2 separate regions of the Homo sapiens genome follow, and region 2 is linked to region 1. Evidence: fine-mapped expression QTL. Tissue or cell type: whole blood. Region 1 holds a variant in brackets; the other region holds the start of a gene. All regions are shown on one strand. Distances are from middle to middle.

Region 1 (2,688 bases):
TTTGCACAGAGTCCTCACTGTGGCTCATGCACTGGGTTTTTCAGCTTCATCACTATTGACATTTTGGGCTGGATATGCTGTTGTTGTGGGCTGTCCTGTGTACTGTACGATGTTAAGCAGCATTCCTGGCCTCTGCCCACTAGGTGCCAGTCACAACCCCATAGACCATAAAAAATTGTTTCCAGATCTTGCCAAATGCCCCTGGGGGCAAAGTTGCCTTTGGGGAAGAACTGCTGCCTTAAAGGTATACGCTTTTGGAAACCAATGCTGGTCAGATTCTCTGGAGACCAGAAACTACTAGTAAACAGGAGAGCTGGCAGAAGGGATGGCCAAACGAGAAGTCAGAGTTTCTATTTTAAATTTTTGTTTACCTCCTGCTTGTCATGCTGGAAAAGGGGATAGAAATGTTAGGATAGCTACACACAAACACTTCTATACTACACATAGATAGTTGAATGTTAGCAGAGTTCTGGCATTGTATTTTTTATGAAGTAATTGTTTTCTTCTTATTAGGCACAGGTTTCACCTTTCTAAGGGAAATATTATACCACTGATACAAACAAAATAGATACAGAAACATGGACATTAAATTTGTGCGTGATAAAATTGCTTTTTTCTAAAATATGTTATTTTTTTCTAATATAAATTAGAGTGTCATATAGAACATCACTATGGCGTCTTATTTTACACACACACACACACACACACACACAAACACACCAAATATTTATAGGTCTGTTTAGCATCAATTATCCCACACTTCTTGAGAAAGAACAGCAAAAGGACTAAACTGTCAAGAAATTCAATTTCTAGGCATCTTGAGTTTCTGAACTTTAGGGAAAGGGAGTCATTTACTTTATATTTCTCTGTGGCTGATCTATGATTAGTCATACAGAGATGTCAAAAGATGTTGACAGAATAAGAATAATAAGCATACATTTATGGCCTTCGTCAACAGCCTAGGAGATCAACTGTCCCGTTAACCAATACCTAGCACTTCCTCCAATGGATAAATCTTGAAAAAAGGGGTTTCCAGATGCAGTTTATATCCAGGTAGTTCATTGACCTTTTTGACACTTCCTTTGTCAATCACTTTTTCCAAGATG[A/C]AGGAAATTTGAAAGTCTACAAAGATCACCAAACTTGCTTTCTTTGAGTCAAACTTGCTTTACTTAACTATGAACTGGCAGATGTGTCCATTCCAGTGGTCTGTAAATACTTGGGAAATGGTGAAGCAGTTATTTAGCATGTTTGCCACTAAACATGTTGCCCCCTTCCCATTTGCAGGTTGATCACTTGAGGAAAGAACCCAAACTTTTTGATGTTGACCATACATCTTCCATTTGAGGGCAATTGCCTTTAAACGGGCCACATCTTTGATGTTGCACTTACCCTGGGAAAGATTTAGGTTAAATGGTGTTATTTATCCTAATATTATGATTGTTTTACTTTGGAATTATCTTTCTCAAACACAATACTGAACTGTCTGGGCTCCAAAAGGTGAAAATTGGAAAGCATAAGTTATTCTATACCTATAACACTTGGTTCTCCCAGACCAGCTAAGATGTTTTATGTTTCTAGGTTTTATTTTATTTTATTAATTCTCAGAAATGCGTGTTCATATTTTTCATAAATAAATGTAAATATCTCAATTGAAAATGAACAGAATTGAAAGTCAAATGCATATAAGAGAAAATATATTTCATCAGCCAACATGAAAAAAATTTATTAGTAAACAACAAAATGCACATTAAAACAAGATCTAAATTTTTACTTATCCAATTGGCAGAGATTAAAAATTAATTTAGGATATTCAATACTGGAGATAGTGTTTTGTTAGCAGGAAAGAAAAACGTTATAGCTTCTTTGGAAAATAATTTCACAGTGTGTAGAAGGGGTCTTAAATTTCCAAGTCTGAGACAGGTAATTTTAAATCCAAGAATCTATTCAAAGAAAATCATGTTAAATACAGGGAAACTTTTGTGTACAAATGTGCTCATTTTAGTGCTATTTAGAATATGGAGAAAAGGCGGAAACAAAGCACTTGGCCATAAAAAGAAATTCAAGTAAACTGTGGTACATTCAGTCTATGCATGTAGACATTAAATATACTAATGGTTATTTCTAATAATGGAAAAACATAATATTTAGTAAAAGAAGCACTGTAAAAAATTATAGTAAAATTTATGTATCAAAATTATATAGAAGATGCTTAAAAGACTAAAAATGCAATAAAATATTAATATTTGTTGTCTTTCTAGTGAGACTGAGTAAATGTTTTTAAGTCAAATTTTCCAAATTTTCAGAAAATTCTATATTCAATCATTACTCTTTTATATTTGAAATAAAATAAATTTTATTTTTAAAAAACATATGTACATTTTTTTTTCTTTTTTGAGACAAGGTCTCACTCTGTCACCCAGGATGGAGTGCAGCAGCTTGATCTCAGCTCACTGCAGCCTCCACCTCCTGGGTTCAAGTGATTCTCCTGCCTCAGCCTCCTGAGTAGCTGGTATTACAGGCATGCGCCACCATGCCCAGCTAATTTTTGTATTTTTAGTAGAGATGAGGTTTCACCATGTTGGCCAGGCTGGTCTCAAACTACTGACCTCAAGTGATCCGCCCGCATTGGCCTCCCAACATGCTGGGATTACAGGTGTGAGCCACTGTGCCTGGCCTATGTACATTTTT
Region 2 (2,688 bases), 310 kb after region 1:
AGCTCCCGGAGCTGTAAACTTTCGGTGCAGATTTGCTTGCAGTCAAAGTAGCATCTTTGAAATAAAAGGGGGCTTTTTTGTTTTTATTTTTTAAGTGATTTCTGCCGATCCGATCCCTGGCCTCCTTCTTCAAAGCTGGACTCCCTACCTCCGCCCCTCTTCTCTTTCCCAGTCCCCCCTCCCCTTTGAAAGTGCTTTGAAACCCCCATTAAGAACAGTGTGTGATCAGACTGAGGATTAGGGGAAAAGAACTTCAGCTCTAGGGTGGGGCAAACGGACACAGAAACTGCTTTGTAAAAAACACACAAGAATCCAAATTAAAACACAGCAACAACAACAACAAAAGGAAATAAAAAATTGCCTATTTTGCCACCTACTTTCAGGTAATGGAAAATGATCGCGACCGCTTGATGACTTTCTTCCTGCGCTGGGTCAGCCCGAGCTTCCAAAAATAAAATAAGTGTGACCCAGGCTGACCACGAAGAACGGAAGAGAGAGAGCTGCACTTCCGAACCGCAGAGACCCGGCGCCAGGCAGGGCGACGCTCCCACCCGCTCCGGGCTAGACTGTCCACACGGAGCAGAGGCGGGCACTCCCTCCACCCGGCACCCTGCCTTTTTCTCACCCTGGAAGTCTCCTGCCCCCGAGGCGGGCAACCTGTGTCCCCCAGCCCCACCAGCGCCCCGCCTAGGGACAGCCTCTCCCTGGACTTTGCCTTCCACCAAGAGGAAGAACAGGTTAGAAATGCGGGCGCCTGCAAAGGCAACCTGGAAAATACAAAGTGTTTTTCTCTCCCTCTCCCGCTCTCAGCGCCGAATTCGCGGCCAGTGCACGGCTGGGAGCAGACTTCAGGCTAGCTGTCCTCCGTCCCAACCCCCTAGAGCGCGGGCGCGCGGGGTCGCCTGTCGGGGACACTGCACGGGGTGCATACAGAAGTCCCCGCAGAGGCAGGCCGAGCCCAAGCCCCGGGCGAGGCAGGTCCGCGGGGAGCGCCCCGGATCCTCGCGAAGACCCTGCGGGATTTGAGAAAGGGAGGCTCGGGGAGAGACGGACCCAACTCCTGGTCCGGCTGCACCTACTCCATGTTGCCCACAACGCGCCGGCCGCGGCGCCAGGAGGGGAAGAGCCAAACGTGCCTCACCGTGATCGCGGCTTTGCACCAACCCCTCTCCCTTGGATTCTCTTCTTTCTGCGATGTGCAAATAAATCCAGTCTCGATGCAAACTTTTTTCCTTTCTTTCCAACCTCTGCTTTAGACCAACTTCCGAGCAATCGGCGGGAGAAAAAAAGAGAATTCGGAGCCAGATTCCCCGCTGATGAACACTCCGGGGTTCGGAGCTGGAGACGACTCCCCTTCTACAAGCGCACGCGGAGTATTTCCTCTTTTTTCTCAATGAACAAGAGGCCGAAGCGCCAACGGCAAGTCCCTTTTCCTGGCAGATGAGCGAATGGGAAAAGAAAACGGCCTTACGGAGAACCTAAAGCCAGATCGCCAAGTGGTGCGGCCGGGGCCGCGTCGTAGCGGAGGCGGCGCGGGGGCGCGGGCCGGGCCGGGCCGGGCGGGCGCGGGGGCCTGGGCGCTGCGCGCTCCGCCGGCCCCTCTCCTCCGCTAGCGCTGCGGCGCGCAGCTCTCGGCGGTGCAGACTGGGCGTTGTGGAGGCGAGGCAGCGAGGCCGAGGCGGGGGCGGTGGGTGCGGAGGAGGAGGAAGAGGAGGAGGAGGAGGAGGAGGAGGGTCTGGGGCCCGCCCGGGGGGGGCTCGCCGTTGGCCTGCGCCCTCGCCTTTCCGGAGGAGGCAGGGAGCTCTGCGGCGGCCGCGGCAGCAGTAAATGGCGTCATGTGGATCCGAGGCGGAACAGAGCAGTTGTTGTCCCAGAGGATATATCGCATCCGGTCCCAGCTCATTGGCTCCGCGGGGCTACATTCACTCACACTCCAGCGCCCGCCAGCGCTCCGAGCCGCAGGAGGCATTCAAAAGGGCAACCGCGCCGCCCCGCGCGTCCCCAGGCCGGTCCTGCCGCCCGAGCGCCGTCACGCGGGGCGCCCGCGGGGCCGGGCTGGGCACTGCAGGGTCAGTTTATCTAGTTTCAAGGAAACACTGACCTTAAGGTTTGCCCAGAGGCAATGAGGACGAGCCAGAGGCTCGAGCTGACTTAGGGAACTTTCTCCTTGCCACCAGGAAAGGGGAATGAACATTTAAGACTAATCTGGGCCACGCAGTGTTAGCATGAAAAACAAGTTGCAGGTTTTAAGACTTTATCCAGAATCCATTTCAAGTCTACCTCTCCCCTTTTCTGTTCCCCTTTGCGGAGCGGGTGACGGGGGCTGGGGCGGGGGGAGAAGAAGGGGGAGGGGAAGGGGAGCGGGAAGTGAGGTGGGAGGGCTATTGGTTTATTCTTTGTCTACTGGATTAACCCGATTATACACCAGGCACCAGCACAAACCGCCTCCCCCACCTCCGAGCCTTGTACGGGAGGAACGGAATGCAGATTCGAGTTTCAAGTACCTTCTGCTCTTGCTGGGATTTGCTTTTGATTGTGTCGACTTGTAGTTTTTCCGTTTATTAGAATTTCATTTTTAAGGGGGGTTATCTATGAATGGAGGCTTTTTGAAGAGCTTCCTTACTATTTTGCTTCATGCAGTAGCTAAAGTCTACAGTCTAAGCCTTTTAACTTAATTCATTAATAGAC

The links. PIP is the estimated chance that this variant, and not a neighbour inherited with it, causes the effect.
Region 2: SPRY2 starts here. The variant in region 1 is fine-mapped to the expression of SPRY2 in whole blood (INTERVAL, PIP above 0.99).

The regions. Positions count from the first base shown.
Region 1 is chr13:80,030,545-80,033,232 of GRCh38, forward strand. No RefSeq gene overlaps it. Among named protein-coding and RNA genes, the nearest start is that of LINC01080, 21 kb to the left of the region's middle. The variant A/C (reference allele first, on the strand shown) is at 1,107.
Region 2 is chr13:80,339,481-80,342,168 of GRCh38, forward strand. SPRY2 (sprouty RTK signaling antagonist 2) reads right to left here and starts at 1,646. Exons shown (of 2, transcript NM_005842.4): 1 at 1,142-1,646. RefSeq lists silencers at 1,594-1,783, 2,014-2,063.